Linked DNA regions of Homo sapiens: region 1 is linked to region 2. The links come from fine-mapping of genetic effects on gene expression. A gene starts in region 2. The other region holds a variant in brackets. All regions are shown on one strand. Distances are between the middles of the regions.

What was found. PIP is the estimated chance that this variant, and not a neighbour inherited with it, causes the effect.
Region 1: its variant is the best candidate, but not a certain one, in a credible set for the expression of NUDT12 in aorta (GTEx, PIP 0.75).

Annotation. Positions count from the first base shown.
Region 1 is chr5:103,524,005-103,534,295 of GRCh38, reverse strand. It overlaps LINC02115 (long intergenic non-protein coding RNA 2115), which reads left to right. Exons shown (of 5, transcript NR_104670.1): 3 at 3,888-3,979; 4 at 4,502-4,592; 5 at 5,835-5,862. It also overlaps the pseudogene PDZPH1P. Among named protein-coding and RNA genes, the nearest start is that of LINC02115, 13 kb to the left of the region's middle. The variant A/C (reference allele first, on the strand shown) is at 6,470.
Region 2 is chr5:103,557,416-103,567,706 of GRCh38, reverse strand. It overlaps NUDT12 (nudix hydrolase 12), which reads left to right and starts at 4,918. Exons shown (of 7, transcript NM_031438.4): 1 at 4,918-5,004; 2 at 7,453-7,664; 3 at 8,239-8,828. The coding sequence starts at 7,459. RefSeq lists enhancers at 4,615-5,145, 5,146-5,678.

The DNA.
Region 1 (10,291 bases), 33 kb after region 2:
TACAAAACTGTCAGATCTCATGAGAACTCACTATCATGAGAACAGCATGGGGAAAACTGCCCCCTATCGGGGGAACCTGCCCCCAATTTCACATAGGTTCTTTTCTATATTCCCTAAGTGTTGGCCGGTCTGAGAAACAAAGGGACAGAGTACAAAAGAGAGAAATTTTAAAGCTGGGTGTCTGGGAGAGACATCACATGTTGGCAGGTTCTGTGATGCCCCCTGAGCCATAAAACCAGCAAGTTTTTATTAGTGATTTTCAAAAGGGGAGGGAGTGTATTAATAGGGTGTGGGTCACAGAGATCACATGCTTCACAAGGTAATAAGATATCATGAGGCAAATGGAGGCAGGGCAAGATCACAGGACCACAGGACCGGGGCGAAATTAAAATTGTTAATGAAGTTTCAGGCACGCATTGTCATTGATAACATCTTATCAGGAGACAGGGTTTGAAGCAGACAACTGGTCTGACCAAAATTTATTAGGCGGGAATTTCCTCATCCTAATAAGCCTGGGAGTGCTATGGGAGACTGGGGCTTATTTCATCCCTACAGTTTCAACCATAGAAGACGGCCGCACCCAAGGGGGCCATTTTAGAGGTCTACCCTCAGGGATGCATTCTCTTTCTCAGGGATGTCCTTGCTGAGAAAAAGAATTCAGCGATATTTCTCCCATTTGCTTTTGAAAGAAGAGAAATATGGCTCTGTTCCACCCGGCTCACCGGCGGTCAGAGTTTAAGGTTATCTCTCTTGTTCCCTGAACATTGCTGTTATCCTGTTCTTTTTTCAAGGTGCCCAGATTTCATATTGTTCAAACACACATGCTTTACAAACAATTTGTGCAGTTAACGCAATCATCACAGGGTCCTGAGGCGACATACATCCTCCTCAGCTTACAAAAATGACAGGATTAAGAGATTAAAGTAAAGACAGGCATAAGAAATCACAAGGGTATTGATTGGGGAAGTGAAAAGTGTCCATGAAATCTTCACAATTTATGTTCAGAGATTGCAGTAAAGACAGGCATAAGAAATTATAAAAGTATTAATTTTGGGGAACTAATAAATGTCCATGAAATCTTCACAATTTATGTTCTTCTGCCATGGCTTCAGCCGGTCCCTCCATTTGGGGTTCCTGGCTTCCCACAACAGCGCCCCCCTCTGCCATGATCCAATCACCTACCACCAGGTCTCTCCTTCAACATCTGGGGATTACAATTCAAAATGAGATTTGGGTGGGGAATTTGACAAAGCCTAACCATATTGCCAAGGCATCTATACCACGTGTGTCTGCTCAAAGAGAGAGCTTACTTAATTAGTGGTTTGCCACCATTAGTGAGATTCAGGAAGCACGGATGGTCTGGGTCCCAGTTTTTCACATACCGAATTGAGAGCTTTGGATGAGATAATCTTGAAAACTTCTAGACATTCTAGCGCAAAAATAATGTATGGTTTGGTCAGCTTTATTGAAGCCCTCACCTGCAGCTCTGATAAGATGGCAAGTCTCCCAAAGCCAGCCACTGCTCAGCTCTAATTAAGGGTATATTTTAATTGTTATGTATATATACTGTAACGGAGGTTAATAGCAAGTACCATTTCACTGGAACCATTGATAATGTTTTCAGTTGTGTTTATTCAAGACAACTTTGTAAGTTAAATTTTGTTAGCATTTCTATCTTAGAGGTAAAGGAAATTCAGCCTCACAGATATGACACAACCTGCTGAGTGAGCAGCAGAGCCATGGTACAGACCCAGATATTCTGAGTCAAAGTCAAGTGCTCTCAACTAAACTCAGTGCAGCAGGCTACATTTTTCTGTTTAAACTATGTGAAACCATTGAGAAATAATCACTAACCTAGTCATGTGCTTTTAAAAAAAGTATTTATTTATTTGGCCCTGTAATTGTACAAATTTATAAGGTACAATTTAATATTTCAGTACATAGCTATGTTGTGTAATGATCCAATCAAGGTAGTTAGTGTGTCCATTACATCATGCATTTATCATTTCTTTGTGGTGAGAACATTCAAAAAGCCTCTCTTCTAGCTGTTTTGCAATATGCAATGTTTTCCTGTTAACCACAGTCACCCTAGTGTGCAACAGAACACCAGAATTCATTGGTTCAATCTAATTGAGACTTTGAACCCGTTGACCAACTGCTCCCCACCTTCCTAACCCCTTCTTCTCCCCAATCTCTGATAACCACTGTTCTACTCTCTGCTTCTATTATATCAACTTTTTTTTTTTAAAGATTCCACATATGAATGAGATCACATGGTATTTGTCCTTCTGTGTCTGGCTTATTTCATTTAACATGACGTCCTCCAGGTTTATCCATGTAGTCACAAATAGCAGGATTCCATTTGTTATGGCTGAATAATATTCCATTATGTATATATACCACATTTTCTTTCTCCATTTGTTGTTAGACACTTACGTTGATTCCATATCTTGACTTGTGATAGCTATACAATAAAACATGGGAGTGCAGATATCTCTTTGAAATACTTATTTCATTTCCTTTGGATACATACTCAGTAGTTGAATTACTGGATCCTATGGTAGTGTTTTTTTTAAATTTTTTGAGTAACCTCCATACGTTTTTCTATACTATCTATACCTAGTCAAATGCCTTTGAAGCGTTTTTAAATTAGAAAACCCAATATGTGTAAGACAGGGATAAAAAAAGAAAGATATTAAATTGTGCATTTGTAATCCTCTGCGCAACCCAATCCCCACATTGGCCTTCTAAGAAGAGTGGATTACTGCTCACCTCATCAGCCACAGGAATGTAGTTTTGCTTATTGCAGGAGAATGTAGACAGGTTAATTGAAAGATGCCAAGAGAGTATCAATTGCTCTATATAAGAAAGGCAGCCTAGGGAAGCAGAATTTTCAGAAAATTAAGAGATTTGGAGAGGCTATGGAATAAAAAGTATTTTAAATCAACAGATATTATGACTTGGAGGAGAGAGATGAGTTATGAAGAATTTTAATAAATTTTTGCCAAAACTAGCCGCAAAGCAACCTGATTTTACATAAAACAAATAAGAGTCAAGCTTTTTGACTGAGGTGTCCAAAGACACAGCCTGGCCAAATACACCTAAAGCAAACTGCCTCCATGGGAAACTATTTCCTTTTCATCTTTACAGACAGATTAATTCTTTTAAAGTAAAGCAATTAGAATCAGGCTTAGCTCTGAGCACAGGCAGGTGCCTGCTTGAGGTGATAATTGGGAAATTAGGAGATGGCCTTCCCGCAGATGCCTTCTCCAACATCTTCTATTAGTTAAGACATCATCAACAGAGAATATAACCCTTTCTTTCACAGTTAAGGTAAAGAATTTGGTCTTCTACAATGAATTACCAACTCTACCAATATGTTTACTCAGTCATAATATTTAAATATGGTTATATATAATGACAGTGTAATGAAGGCAAACCATCTCCCTACCCCACTTAATTTTTAGCAGGGCTACAAATTTCATAATATTGGATTTAGGCTAACTTTACAAAAAATTGTGTGTTTCTATTAATATAGGAAACAATGAAACATAAAAATAATTAAACAATATGCATCAACTTGCATCCTAAATGTCTACAAATACGAATATATGTGTATATGTTTTACATATCTATATGTTTGAATATTCATTTATATGCACATGTACATATATATCTAACAATGCACTAAATAGTTGAGATGGAACTAAACAAAAAAGGTTAATGTAATTACAACAATAAAATATATTTAAAGGAAAAGCATGTGGGGATACCACAGACAGATACCCATGCTATCAAGTTGGCAAGTGAGTTGAGTTACTCAGTAATTTGACTAAACCTAAATTCTGATGGGAAAATAATTTCAAATTTATTTGCTGTTTTCAAAGGGCAGTGAAAACTGAAGACCCACAACTCCCCAAAATGATGAGGAAAAGAAGAAAAGGCTGTAAAAAATGGGAAATCTTGAATACCACAGTATGTAAGTCCAATTCAATGATTTTCTAAGTATGTAAAAAATGAACTGCTTAGTTTATGTACTTTCTTCTTTATCACAGGACTGTCTATAAAACTAGGAAGATAAAAACATATAAAATGATTTTGAAGCTTGGTCTATAGTTACTATTTATATACTTCTGCATTAATGATATGTATTATAACTAATAAAAATCTAAATAAAAATATTCAGATATGGACTATTAGGACCCATTATTCTTAGAATCTGTTATCAATGCATTATTATGTAACTTTCTCTGCTCTATATCCCTTTTTGCAGAAATTAAAATGTAGTCAATTCAAAGGGGCTATAAAATATAAAATTATAAAATTGAAAGGGGTATAAACAGAATGGCTCTTGGCATGAAGATGTTATTTAAAGAATAAAGTCCAGTTCTGGAAGGCAGTCCATCAGTCTATAAACTGTTATTGTGTCCATGGTCTATTGTAAATGGCCTTTAGAGAGATAGGTCTCCATGTCTTTTCTCTTATGACTTCCACATTACAGAGCTCAGATTGTGACCAGGCCCACTGGAAACTGTTTCAGTACCTGACAAGAGAGACCTTCCTACAGGCTAGAAGAGAGGCAAATGGGAATGGTTAGACTCCTCAAGTGATCTCAGTATGCTCGATGCTGTTCTTTTTCCTGTTGAAGAGAATTTATTCTCTATATAAGTATTTATATAATTATAAGCATTTTATGTAAAAATTTATAAGTATAAATAAAAATCATTTTAAGTTAAAAACATTTAAAATAAATGTATAAATAATCCATTCCAATTTTAAACTTAACTTTTTAAAAATGTCCTTTTTGACACCTGGTTCATCAATCTTTATGATATAAGTATTCACTTGTTGCCTATTCTTCTTTCTTAACAAATAATCTCAGATGTAGTTTAAAATAGAATTTGAGATATTTTTGTCCACTGTTTTTTACACAAGCTCTGGTGCCTCATGCTCAGGTTCACAAGCTTCTCATAGGAATGTATTTTAATATAAAACAGAGGAGTGCAGGTTGCAAGCTGGTAGTTCTTGGGCAAAAGCTGGTCCCTAAGTATACTGGCCTCCACCTATAGAGGGTTGTTGTTTTAAATTTTTGAACTAATCCTTAGAAATTAAGAAATTTTACAGTATAGGAAAAAATCCAGATTCTAGTTCTCTTCTGGAAAAATGAGATGATCCAGTAACACCAGGACACCTTTTCACGTGGCTGGAGCTGACTAGCAGAGAATATGTATACCCAGCCTGCTTCACTTGTTTATGTTACCTGTTTAAATGCCACAGACTTTGAGTTTGTGAACCTATTCTATAAAAAGCCCAGGGCAAAGGATACTACTGGACATGTTTGAAAGTCTGTCTAAAAGCATACTTATGTTTCTTCCATTCTTTTTACCCACATCTTCATTTGTAGTACCATCTCAAATTGTATTGAGCTTGACTTAGCCTGTAGTATAATGCCATGTTCAAATACCTGATCATATAGCAAGCTGTTCTTTTTCAAGAGTTGCACTTAAAATTTAGTTGCATATGTTTCTTGTGAAATTTTCATTTCACCCACTTTTGCAAGTTGCTGTTTTAGAGTACAGCTTAATTAAATTCTTACTTCATAAAACTACTGGTGATATTTCTACACTCTAAGAGAATTGGTTGATTTAAAGTGATGTATTTATTATAAATGAACTTTTGTGAAAAACATTTTGACATGCTATAAATGAATGAAAACCGATACCCAAAATACTTACAAAGGATTTGCATTGCATTTTATTCTAGAAATTGGAACATCTGTTCTCTAAATGAACACGTAAACCTTTCCAATTTTTATTTTTTTGCTTCCTCTTTAGGTGTATCTCAGCCTGCTGGCTGAGCATGCCAAGAAAATATAAAAGTTCTTGAAAAGGAAGTCAAAGGAGACACCTTGGAGCCTGTGTTTCATCAGACTGGGACATTAGGGAAATCTAAGGAAAATGGAGATGAGGGTATGTCTGCTTCTGTGAATGAAAAGCAGAATTCTTCTTTTCTTCCTAAAGATAAGAAACAGCATCCATGTGACAGCAAAATACATAGGAAGAAGGGAAATGATGATCCTCCTTTGGCTGTCTCTCATCAACTGGAGAAAGTCTTACCTATGATCACATTTAATGACTATGGAGAATCATTATCAGAAAACATTACATTACAGAATCTCCTAGGCACAGTAGAAGACTTTAAGCCAGCAAAAGGCAAATTTATTACAGAAGTGAAACGTGGGGATTTCAATGTGCAAATAGAAATCAAGAAAAACTTTGTCTGTAAACCAGGAATACAGTTCCCAACAAAAAAAGAGACATCCAAAATGTTGCCAGCGTTGCTCTATCAGACACATTCAGAGATGCTACCCTTCTAGGAGCTGCTTTCCTAAACATAAGAATATATTGGTGGAAGAACTAAAACCTGAGGTGCTGTCTAAACATGAAGGAGAAATTGCCAGAACCGACAG[A/C]CCCTTGCTGAAAGTAACCATTGAAAGAAAAGAAATTAAAGTCAACTACATGACTAAGACACAGAATATATTAATTAATATAACTCATCCTAAAAGAAAGGAAAAAAGTAACTAAATACAGAAACATTTCCTCCAATCACACCACTAAAGAAACTTTCAGGTCTCCCTCACAGTCTGGTATTAGGTATCCTGAAATGTGGCAGCTTGAAAACAAGCATCAGAGTTGAGATTGTTTGTGTGTCTCTTCTCCTGGCATGTGTGCTGTCGAGAAGGAGAAGAATTTTGATACAGTGGTGATTTATCTAACCTCGACTCTGGAGAGAAAGAAAAATAAGCCTGACACACTATCTACAGTCTTAGAAGACTGTGAGGTAGAATCTGCTATCTCTCGGCAGAAGGTCTTTAAAATTAGTCAGAACACCCCCAGAAAGAAACATTTCTCTGAGTCTAAGACTCTTCTCAAAAAAATTCTTCCTACTTCACATAATACCCAAAAGACCACAAGTTTAAGTACTGCAGATTTAAGTAAAATGCCTTTCGAGGATTCTAAGGATGTGGAAAAAGAGAGAAAAATCAACTTTGATATCCCAGGAAATATCACATCAGACTCACATGTACAGCAAAGCACAGAAGGAATAAATTATTTGCCAAGTACCATTACTGACATCTTTCCACTCAAGATGGCAAAAACTTCACCTTTAGTTCTTCATCTTCTGTGAGTATGTAGCTCACAGAAGCAAAGGTAGCCAACATCTACTGCAAAGGAAGCAAGACTCCACCTGCAGAATGCTGTGAGAACTCAAATTCTGTATCTTTCCCTCCCACTCAAACTTCTCTGCAGTCTTGCACCTCATTCAGCCCACCTCACTGGGCCACCAGACATTTGAAACCTAAGGAAAACCCTGAGAGTACATTTTCTTTTAATCATTGTGCTGAGTGTGTGATAGATTATGAGAAGGAGCAGATTAATGTGACTGACAGAGACTTTAACAAAGCCATTTTACATAGTGACTCTCATGCTAAAGCACAGCAACTACTGGAAAGGAAGATTACACTGTGTCTTAATCTCAGGCCTGCTTCTGGCAGCAGCCTAGCAGCTAAGAGCCCACGCAACGGTATTAGCCACAGCACTGTGGAATGGAACCAAACAGAGTCACAGCAAGTCATCCAGAGATAGCAGCCCCGACCAAAACAAAAGCACTAGTTATGACCTTCATAACTGATGAGTTAGAGCAAAAATTGATTATTCAAGATGATAAAGAAACTAGTTGTTTCTAATTGTCCCATGGGAATGAAAAACCGTAAAGAGTCACCCAGCTCTCTGGAAAATGTTGAAAAAGACAAATGCCAGATAATACCCGTGGTGAATAATGCATACCACAGAGATTTTGAAGACCTGTCAAATGAGAATCGTGACAAAGTCTGTTTTCAAATGCATTTTTCAGCAAACACTGCTGAGTCCAACTGTGCAGTGTGTGCTTCAGATAATCTGTTTCTTATTGAAAAAACACTGACCAATGATGTGGACCTACATGGTAACCAAGATAAAGAAAACCTTGGACTAACTAGTTTTAAACAGGAGCCAGCACAGTGCCAAAGGATTGCATCAACAGGGCCAAATACTGAAGAGGATGAGAACAAAAATGACTCAAAGGAAAATTACTGTTACCAAATACACACGTTGATGCCACCTCAGAAGCAAGCTTTGAAAGGTATGGTGGGCTATACAGAATCATTAACTTTCATTATTTTTTATATATTTTAGCTTTGGAAAGTCTTAAGATGAGGGCTTTTTTAAAATTGCTTGGGATGTTTTCTTTATTGCTAAAGATATATTATATATTTTAGAGTTAGATGAACACGGGCAAGCATATATCAGTCTGTTTCTTTACATTATCACCCACTCCACCCATAAATAGTGCATCTTCAAGCCTGCAGTTTAATGTAAAAAAAAAAAAAATCAATTTCTCTTTAAAAGGTTGATATATTGCCAAATCAATTTTGTAGGAAATGTTAGTCTTTGCCACTCTTAAATAATCCACCATTTCTTTCCTTCTTGCAAGCTAAGCATGTTCAGAAGAATAGGAAGAATATGTTTGTAATAAAATATATTTTTAAATCTTGCTGTGGTGTTACAGAGGCATTGTATGTATGTCTTGGAAGGCCATGTGGAATAGTAATTACAACAAAGGACAAAAAACAGAAACGACCTTGCCTAATCCTCACTGAGCCACCATGGGGCCTCTGACCTCCAGCAGACCTCTGACCTCCCTTGTGCATTACTTGGACCAAATTGTTGATAGAACCCAGAAGCTCTCCAGACCTCAAGTAGGGCCAAGATGGAAGTTCTTTCCTAAGTACATAATTCTGCCTGTCTGCTTTCAATCTCAAATCAGCACTATATCATTTTTGTCACTTCATAGAAGGCCCTTGTTTTTTTAAATGAGTCCAAATTATTTTATATTTAATGTTAGCATTATTCCATATTGTAAATTAAAATACATTTTGAATGAGTAAAAACTGTCTTCTAAACTGCTGGTAATAATCCTAATAGCTTCAGAAATTATATTTGGAATGATGAAACTTAAAGGAGAAGGTATATTTTCTTTGTAGTTCTGTCTCTAGATTTTTGAATGAAATTAGTAAAATTTAGAAGTAGAAATAAAATACAAAAAGCATAATCAATTACATAACTGTTAGAATAAAATGTGAAATTTGTTTTGTAGAGAGTAAATGCCCTAAAACAGTATGAAAACTCTATGGTCATCTGCTTGATATGAACACCCTAAAGCAAGGACCATCAGTCATGGGGACTGCTTCCTGGTGCCAACATCCATCCAGAAATCAGCATCAATGACATTAATCCCAACACTGACTTCAGTCTATAGTTATTTGGAACTGCAAGGGAACCTGCAGTAAGAACAACTGTGCCTCCCAAAGGAAACACATGCTCACCTGGATGAATATATCTCCCAAGTTGACTCTCCTTCCCCCAGAGGCATGTTCCTCCCTGTCCTACCTCTCCCAGCGGGAAACATTTCTTAAGAAAATCAATAATTCAAGTCAGAATTCTCTCAAAGCTGATATTACACATCAGAGTTTGAAACTGTCCCATTTGGTAAACAATTCCAGCTACTGGTTCCCTGTGTTACTGATTCATCAAAAGGCTATTCCTACAACTCTCTCCCTGTATCCTTTTCCTTGATCACTCTTCCAGCCATATTGACTTACTTCCTAGAACCTTCCAGCCCAGATCCACATCAGGCCCTTTGCATGGACTGCTCCCACTACTTGGACCAGTCTTCCCCTATATGTCTACATGGTTCATTCTCATCTCCTCATCTCCTTTAGATTTTTGCTCACACAGCATGTTCTCAGGAAGGTCTTCTCAGACCACTCCATTTAAAATTGCAAACTGAACCATCTTCATTACAGCCCAGGCAAACGCTATCCTTTTTCCATTTATACATAGCACTTTTTGCCTTCTAATCTGCTATATATTTTACTGGTTTATTTTTGTTTTGTTCTGTCTTCTTTCACTAGAATATAAGTTCCAGGAGGGCATGGATTTTTCCTGTTTTGATCATTGCTATATTCATAAAATTAGATAGTACCTGTCCTGTAGTATAGGTGCTCAAATATTTATTGAATGCAAAAATAAATGCAGGGAAGTCACATCAGATTTCTTTGAATAGTTCACATACCAAAACAAACAACAACAACAACAACAACAAAACCAGGAACATAGTTCAGCAGTTATAATATTAATACAAAATATTTGAATCTATAAATGTTTGCATAGATTTAACTCTCCTAGAACTA
Region 2 (10,291 bases):
AGTAGATTCTATCTCAAGAAACCACTTTATTTGCTCACCCATAAGAAGCAACTCCTTATTCATTCAAATTTTATCATGAGATTGCAGCAATTCAGACACATCTTTAGGCTCCACTTCTAATCTGGATTACCTTGCTACTACCACCACATCTGCAGTTACTTCCTCCACTGAAGTCTTGAACCACTCAAAGTCATCCATTAGGGTTGGAATCAATGTCTTCCAAACTCCTGTTCATGTTGATAGCTTGATCTCCTCCACAAATCACAAATGTTCTTTTTTTTTTTTTGAGATGGAGTTTTGTTCTTGTTGCCCAGGCTGGAGTGTAATGGCGTGCTCTCAGCTCACTGCAACCTCCGCCTCCTGGGTTCAAGCAATTCTCCTGCGTTCAAGCGATTCTCCTGCCTCAGCCACCCTAGTAGCTGGGATTACAGGCACCCGCCATCAAGCCTGGCTAATTTTTGTAATTTTAGTAGAGGTGGGGTTTCACCATATTGGCCAGGCTGGTCTTGAACTCCTGACCTTAGGTGATCTGCCCATCTCGGCCTCCCAAAGTGCTGGGATTACAGGTGTGAGCCACCACACATGGCCCGAATCACAAATGTTCTTAATGACATCTGGAATGGTGAATCATTTCCACAAGCTTTTCAATTTGCTTTGCCCAGATCCACCAGAGGAATCCCTATATATGACAGCCATAGTCTTACAAAATGTATTTCTTTAATAATAAGTCTTGAAAGTCAAAATTACTCCTTGATTTGTGGGCTGCAGAATGTTGTGCCAGCAAGTATGAAAACAACATTAATTTCCCTGTAAATCTCCATCAGAGCCCTTCAGTGACCAGATACATTATCAATTAACAGTAATATTTTGAAAGGAATCTTTTTTTTTTTTTTTTTTTTTTTTTTTTTCTGAGACAGAGTCTCGCTCTGTCACCCAGGCTGGAGTGCAGTGGTGCGATCTCTTGGCTCACTGCAACTTCTGCCTCCTGGGTTTGCGCCATTCTCCTGCCTCAGCCTCATTCTCCTGCCTCAGCCTCCTGAGTAGCTGCAACTTCAGGTGCCCGCTACCATGCCCGGCTACTTTTTTTATTTTTTTTTTAGTAGCGACAGGGTTTCACTGTGTTAGCCAAGATGGTCTTCATCTCTTGACCTCATGATCCGTCCGCCTCGGGCTCCCAAAGTGCTGGGATTACAGGTGTGAGCCACCGCGCCTGGCCCTGAAAGGAAACTTTTCTTCTGAGCAGTAGGTGGCCACGGTAGGCTTATTCAGTAAACCACTCTCTAAACAGATGTGCTGTCATTCAGGCTTTGTTGCTCCATTTAGAGAGCACAGGCAGGGTAGACTTACCATAATTCTTAAGGGCCCTAGGATTTTCAAAATTGTGAGTATTGGCTTCAACTTCAAGTCACCAGTTGCATTAGTCCCTAATAAGTGAGTCTGCCTGTCTTTTGAGGTTTTGAAGCCAGGCATTGATTTGTCACCTCTTGATATGGATGTCATGGGCGGCATCTTCTTCCAATAGGTGGCTGTTTTTTTCTACATTCAAAGTCTGCTGTTTAGTTTAGCTGCCTTCATCAATTCTCTTAGCAAGATCTTCTGGGTAACTTGCTGCAGCGTCTCCATCGCCACTTGCTCCTTCAACTTGCACTTTTATGTCATGAAGGAGGCTTTTTTCCTTAAACCTCATGAACCAACCTCTGCTAGATGCCGACTTTTCTTCTGCAGTTTCCTCACTTCTCTCGGTCTTCATACAACTGAAGAGAGTTAGGACTTTGCTCTGGATAAAGCTTTGGCTTAAGGAAATATTATGCCTGGTTTAATCTTCCACCCAGACCACTAAAACCTTCTCCATATCAGCAATAAAGCTGTTTCACTTTCTTACCATTCATGTGTTCACTGGAGTAGTACTTTTAATTTCCTTCAAGAACTTTTCCTTTGCCTTTATAACTTGGCTAACTCTTTGGTGCAAGGGGCTTTGCTTTTGGCCTGTCTTGTCTTTTGACATGCCTTTCTTACTAAGCTTAATAATTTCCAGCTTCTGATTTAAAATGTGTGAGAGATGTGTGCGTCTTCCTTTCACTTGAACACTTAGGGGCCACTGTAGGGTTATTAATTGGCCTAATTTCAATATTGCTGTATCTCAGGGAATAGGGAGGCCTGAGGAGAGGGAGAGAGATAAGAATAGCCAGTGGATGGAGCAGTGAGAACACACACAACGTGTATTGATTATGTTTGCCAACTTATATGGGTGCAGTTTGTGGCAATCCAAAACAATTACAATAGTAACATCAAAGATTACTGATCACAGATCACCATAACAGATATAATAATGAAAAAGTGTGAAATATTGCAAGAATTACAAAATGTGATAGACATACAAAGTGAACACGTTGTTGGAAAAGTGGCACCTATATACTTGCTTGCCACAAGGTTGTCATAAACCTTCAATTTGTAAAAAATGTACTATCTGTGAAGTACAGTAAAGCAAAGTGCAATAAAACAAGGCACGTTTGTATACTTACCTGAAGGATATTAGGGAACTAACTAATTATTCTGAAGATTAGGAAATAATGGTGAAAATCGCACATTTATCCTATCTTTCCATATAAGCTGTATAGATATTTAATTAGATGAAGTTCTTTATTATAAAATAATTTGTTAGTAAATGTAGAGTGAATATCAAATTAGAATATCACTATTTGCAACTCATAACAAAATGATGGATGCAGGCAATAATCATGAATGGCTGCTAAAACTATTAGCTGAAAAGTTGATGGAAAAATTTATAATATATTTATCATAAATTTAATATTTAAATAATATAATTATATTTATCATAATTATATATCAATGTCATATATTTATCATAAACATTTACCATATTTTTATAATATTTATATTATTATTTATCATACATGTTATCAGGTTGACAACATCTGAACCCAATGATCAAGTATAACATTAAAAAAAGAGAGACAACCAGAAGTTGTAAGCCTCTTGAAGTAATTCAATACAAAGTAAACTGTAACACCTATAAAGTCTTTTGTGAAAAAAAATCAAACTTTAATCTGAGTAATTCTATAAAGTTAACTACCAGTTTGCAAGAAATACAGGGGGAAAGGACAGCACAGGAATAAAATCTGCAAAATTCAGAATGTGGAAAATTCTACAGAACAAATGATCATTACTCTTTAGTAAATAAACTGCCAGAAAAAAAGGGGAAGAGGAAGGAATCCATAGATTTTTAAAAATCAAATGTGATGTGGAGACTTTGTTCAGATGAATCAACTGAAAAACATATAAAACTTCTGAGGCAAGTGAGTAAATTTGATATTGAATGTTTCTTTTATGTTATTACAGAATTATTGTTAAATTTGTAATACTAGGGATATTGAAGTTGTGTTGTTTTTCAAAGCCCTTATATTTTAGATATAATACATATTTCCAAAAAGTTTACTCTTAAATATTTGTCATCAAAACAATATGGGGTCTGGAATTTACTTCAAAACAATCCTAACAACTGGGAGAACTATATATTAATAGTTGTTGACTCTGGATCATTAATACACGAGGGTTCACTATACTAATCTAACATATGTTTGAATGCAAAGATTGGGTACTCCAAGTGAAGTAACTAATCCTTTCTGACCACCTGTCTGGTCACTGAAATCATTAAAGGCTGAAAACAACTAGTCACATAAAGAAGCATAGGGCGGCCGGGTGCAGTGGCTCGCGCCTGTAATCCCAGCACTTTGGGAGGCCAAGGCGGATGGATCACCTGAGGTCAGGAGTTCCAGACCAGCCTGGCCAACATGGCAAAAACCTGTCTCTACTAAAAATACAAAAATTAGCTGGGCCTGGTGGCGCACACCTGTAATCCCAGCTACTCGGGAGACTGAGGCAGGAGAATCACTTGAAACCCCGGGAGGCGGAGGTTGCAGTGAGCCAAGATCGCACTACTGCACTCCAGCCTGGGTGACAGAGTGAGAACCCATCTAAAAAAAAGAAAAAAAAAAAAAAAACAGCAGCACAGGGCGTTAGAAGCCCTCATGATCAATGTCAACTGGTGCATACAGCTTCACAGTGAGAAGGAGCTTCCAAGGGTAAAATCTGGGTGGGAAACAGTGATCAATTGTAAGAGACCCCTGTAGCTGTTGCTGATTACCAAGGAGAGAGTTTAGTAAAGGAAAAAGCCCTGGTCTGGAAGTTAGAAGACCGCCAACACCTAGTTTTGTAATCTCGGACTCATAACTTCTGTAGGTTTTGGAGCATAAAAGCACAGGAACTGAAATAAAAAATAACGACAATAATTTTGTTGTGGGTGCCCACTCTGCACTTCACAACATCCTAAGAGCTTTGGATACATTATCCTATTTACACCTCACAACCCAAGGAGGTGTTTTGCGCGCTTGATACATACTTTTTAAAGGACTACTGAATAAGTTAGGCGTCAGTATATGATACCAGTTTTCCCATGGGGTGAATGATTAAGGTGTTACAGAGGCCGAATATCTCGTTTAAGAGTGACTTGGTCTAGTCAATAGTCCAGGATTATTTAACAGGAAAGAATGCTTTGAGCACTCAATTGCATTGGACTGTATTGGAGAGAGGGCTAGGAGTTGGGTGGGAGACGCTGGAAAATTTAAAATCGTTTCCTTAGGCCTACAGTTTTCCGATCGCCTGCACCACGTTCTATCTACACATCACAGTCTCAGGAGAAGGATTTTCAGCCCTTCATTCAGCTCCAATCCTTTAGACCGCGATCTCTCCCGCGCCGGCTCCCAAACACTTCCACCCCCAATCTCCACCCCTTCTCCCTTGCGCACAACCTGTGGGCTTCAAACTACATCTCCCATAAAACCGCGGGGGCCCCCCTCCCGCCCCCCCCCCACCCCCGGATCTCCACCGGAAGTCGGGAAGACTGCATCCGGCTCCAGGAAAAGCGAGTGGGATATCCCAATCTTTGGACTGCATCCTGGTTGCCTCTACTGTGGTCACCTTTGGGTTAGTAGAAGCAGTGGGGAGTTAGTCGTCTCATTGCCTCCTCTGGGGGCGGTGACCACTTCCCTGGGCTCTTTGGTTCCCGCGCTGCCCTGCGTGGCCCTGCTGAGTTGTGTGGCGGAGCCTCGTAGTGGTTTGGTGGGCGCAGGCGCGGGAGCCACGGACGCATTTGCAGGGGCTCCCGCGACAGGGCGGAGGTGCGGCGGTACTGAGGTCGTAGAGTTTCCTGCCCAAGCTGAGATGGGGAAAAGGAAGCGCTACTTAGGGTGTGATTTCACCTCGAAAGAAGGAATCTCACAGTAGTGGCAAGAAAGTAAAATATCTTAAGGCATTTTACCATTTTCAGAGACCGTGCACGGGTGGCACTTAATTGGTCTTGAGTGCCCAGGGAGTGGATGAAATTCGTTAATTGATGGTCAGTGATTTCAGTGACAGAGCGATATTTAAGGTCCTGTCCTGTCCCATTCGGTCTGTGTGAGCATGCGGAAGTCATGGGCCCCGGGTTACATGTCAGTAAAAGTGGATGTTGGTTTGTTAAAAATTTATGTCCCTTTACATCTAATATTCTTTTAAATGATTTCTCGGAATAGTCCTTGAGCTTCTTGGAAAACAAGGGCAGCACTTTATTCTGCCTTCAAATCTTTACCTTCTATAACCTGTCAATGAGAATTGAAAAAGTAAATCAAACAGTAGAATTGGGTGTTAGACTTTATGTGCTTCTCTGGAATGAATAATGGTACTATTTCTAGATGGCTTTTCTGCTGAGAAAGCTAGAGGGAAAAGTGTACACTTTCCACTTCCCATCTCCACAGAATAGCATATGCATAAGCATTGCCCTGGAGGTAGTGAATGACGCTGTATTTTTGAAGGACAATTTTGCAGTTACCTGGCGCGGCCTGTGAGAATGTGAGGGAGTGACGGTGACCCCAGAACATGAGACAGTGAAATATTATTCAAACTAAACCTAGCTGAAAAAACTATAATATGGGTTTTTGGAAAATAAACTTAAGAGAAAGACAATTTGGAAGGGAGATCAGTACAGGAGCTGTACAGCAGTGCTTCAAAATAAAGTCCTGAAAATTTGTAGCTTTTGTTATGCATAGTATTTTTAACGTATGTAGAAATTTCAATATGAAAGGAACAGCGAAGTAAATTCTAGAATAAATCAAAAATTATTCTGTCATGTAGATATTACTTCTGGTAATTTAATTTCTAAACAGATTTCCACTGTTAGGTTTCATCCAAGTGTTTCCATGACTGTGAGCAGTTTTAACCTATTTATAAGTAGCAGAAAGACACAAATAGGAAAGGTGAACAGCTCCAAAATGAGACAATTAATCTTTACTCCTTGTTTTCCCTAAATTTTGTTCATACTATTCCTGCTATGCAATTCATCAGCCAGATCGCCCTTTCAGAACCCAGGAGACAGCAGCTATCAAAAACTATGGGCTATAACCTTTCTGTCTTTTTAGCTTAAAAATCTTATTGCTTAGAATGATAGAAATGTTGTTAGAATCCCAAATCTTTTCTTAATAGCATTTCATAGAAAGAAGAATTATACCTTAAAAAAAAATACTTTGAGAAGTTCACAGACAGTTGAATCATGAACCATTTTCACCATCCCCCGCCGCCAAAAAAAAAAAAAGACAAAAAAAGCTCAGTGTGTGCTCTATCATCTGCAGTCCATGATTAGGCAATATTTAAGAGGTATGGAACAATTATTTCAGGGTTTACCCCACCGAAACAAAAAGGTGACAAAGCAGATAAAGTTAATGAGTTTTAAAAGCTGCTCTGATTCAAGGACAACAAAGTGACCAACAGAACTGTCCAATAATAGAACCAAAAATATATGATCATCTGATTTGTGACAATATTTGTCTCAGTGTAGTAGGACAAAGATGGTAATTTCAAGAATAATACGGAGTAATATGGATTATGCATTGGGTAAAAAAGTATCTTGACCCCTACCTCATGCCATGAACAAAAATAGATCCTAGATGGATTACAGAATTAATTGTGCAAGGTCAAACAATAAACTGTTTTCCTGTGAAACTTATAAAGTCTCTGCCTTTACTTCCATCTGTTTTAATGCTCTCCCCCTCATGTCCCCACCCATCGTGAAGTCCCCTCTGGTCTACCCTAAATACCTCCTCCTTATGTAATATGTTACCTGGTTCCCCCTCCCAAGGATATGGCCCCCTCGTCTGTACTGTCAGAGCTCTTTATTCATTATTTTGTGTAACTCCCATGGGCATATAAATTGCGTTGCATTTTATAATTCTAAACTGATAACATTTTGAAATTGAAATGTATGCTGTTTAAGGATTGCCTGTTGAATAGTATGTTGCCTTGGAAACCATTGCTATTATTCTATTGCTATTTATCAATATTGTTCATTGATAAAAAAGCAGTTGCAAATAAGCTTTTTCCCCTGATTTTCCTTCTTTTAAGGAAGAAATGTCTTCTGTAAAAAGAAGTCTGAAGCAAGAAATAGTTACTCAGTTTCACTGTTCAGCTGCTGAAGGAGATATTGCCAAGTTAACAGGAATACTCAGTCATTCTCCATCTCTTCTCAATGAAACTTCTGAAAATGGCTGGACTGCTTTAATGTATGCGGCAAGGAATGGGCACCCAGAGATAGTCCAATTTCTGCTTGAGAAAGGGTAAACATTTTAGGCTGTACCACCTGAAAGGGTTTGTGGTTTAATTTCTTTGTTACATATTTACTTTAAAATTTTGCTTGTTTCCATATTTATATTGTTGAACTACTAAATAACTCATTGGCTAATTTATGTAAAAATGTAGCACAATTTTTCTAACTTAAAACTTTGTAACCTTTTTCATTGAGAAATTATTTCTTTATAGCAAAGCAAATTTATGAGGAGTCTAATTATAAATTTTCCTCCCAAATAGAAAATGCAGATCTCACTATGACTACCAAGGACTTCTTGTAGAATTTTGGTATCTCTTTATAGTGCATAAAGCTTAATACTGTTTTATTTTGTGAGTAATTATCCAGAAAGTGTAAGTATCCACTGTCTCTTAACTTTTTGTCATTTATGATTGTTCTTTTAACCTTCCCAATAGTAAACTATGTAACAAAAGAAAAAAAATCTATGTAATCATTAAAAAGAAGGACTTTAATATGTATCTGGAAATATTTTAGTGAAATAAATACGGAGAAAGTGTTTACTTCCTATTTTACTTTTTCTCCCCAATTTTTTCTTCCATCTATAGGTGTGACAGATCAATTGTCAATAAATCAAGGCAGACTGCACTGGACATTGCTGTATTTTGGGGTTATAAGCATATAGCTAATTTACTAGCTACTGCTAAAGGTGGGAAGAAGCCTTGGTTCCTAACGAATGAAGTGGAAGAATGTGAAAATTATTTTAGCAAAACACTACTGGACCGGAAAAGTGAAAAGAGAAATAATTCTGACTGGCTGCTAGCTAAAGAAAGCCATCCAGCCACAGTTTTTATTCTTTTCTCAGATTTAAATCCCTTGGTTACTCTAGGTGGCAATAAAGAAAGTTTCCAACAGCCAGAAGTTAGGCTTTGTCAGCTGAACTACACAGATATAAAGGATTATTTGGCCCAGCCTGAGAAGATCACCTTGATTTTTCTTGGAGTAGAACTTGAAATAAAAGACAAACTACTTAATTATGCTGGTGAAGTCCCGAGAGAGGAGGAAGATGGATTGGTTGCCTGGTTTGCTCTAGGTATAGATCCTATTGCTGCTGAAGAATTCAAGCAAAGACATGAAAATTGTTACTTTCTTCATCCTCCTATGCCAGCCCTTCTGCAATTGAAAGAAAAAGAAGCTGGTAAGAAATGAATGCTGCTTTTCATTGGTAAAATCTGGTTTTTAGACTTGAGTTGGAGTTGTATGTATTTGCACTTTCCAGGGGCACTCTTTTTCCAGTAAGCAGTGAAATTAGACTGTCTTCATCAGAAACTTCTTAAAGTTCTCACCCTAGGGGACTACTCTCCTGGGCAGTTAGTAGTTCTAATCAGCCCAGACTGATTTCCTGAGAATTAACCCTGGTGCATGATGATCTCATTTGATTCTTCATTGAATAATTCTTAGTTCCTGCTACACGTAGAACATGATGGCAAAGACTTTGACTGTTTTGTTTTGTATTCTGTTGATGGGGCTTTTTATGGCATGGTAAGAAATTGGGGTTTGATTCTAAAGCCATTTAAATGTAACCTAACCTGTGTTTAAAATATTTTTTTAAAAAAGACACTGCACACTGGCTGCATCATAGAGCATAAATTGTACACATGTAAGTAAGTAAGTGTGAAAGTTGGGAGTCTTGTTAAGAGGGAATTGAGTATTACAGGTGCCCAAGTAAGAGATTGCAATGGCTTGAGTTAGAATGGAGGCAGTGGAGATGGAGACAAAGGGAGAATCTGAGGTATTCTCGAGGTAGAAGGGATAGGGCTTGATCTGTAGGTTGAGACCCTTATAAGTGAGAGATGGTGGTAATATGGCATGAATTAAGGTACTGATAGTAGAAATGGAGGAAAGAGGGTATATGCAAGATAAAGTTTGGAGAGAAAATCACTGGTCTTTGCTATTGAATTGGATATGGGATATATAATAATGAAGGAAAAGATTAAGAATGACTGCTAGGCTAGAGACTTTAATAATTTGGTATATAGTGATACCATTTCTCAATAATATAGGATGATGGTTAGAGCAAGGAAAGCAGGACAGACTTGGATTAAAAAAATCAAGAGTTTACTTTTGGGCATACTAAGTTTTAGAAATGGACATTACAATCAGATGTCTGAACTGGAAATACCCATATGGCAGTCATCAACACACAGATACTTAAATCCCAAAAAACTACTGAGATTACTTGGAGAGTTGAGAGGAAGCAAGAAAAACTCAGAATAAGACCTGAATCCCCCTAAATTTAAAGGTAAGCTGCAAGCAGGAGAGCCATCAAAGGAGTTGGAAACAGTGTGGCCATGAGGTAGGAAGAGAGCAAGAGGCCTCAGGGAAACCAAGACAGCAGAGTATTTCCAGGAGGGAGTGGTCAAATGTATTGAATGCTGTTATGAACTTGAGTAAGATGAAGGCAAAGTGGTTTTTTTGTTTTGTTTTGTTTTTTAAAGCATCTTTGTCTTTGGTAATATGAAGCTATTGATGAACTTGACAAGAGAAACGTCAGTGGAGTGAAACGAACAGAAACCAGATTATGGTAGACTGATGAGTTACTGGGAAGTTAGGAATAGGTCACTTGTCAGTGACCACCTTCCCTTAGGTGATAGAGGTCCT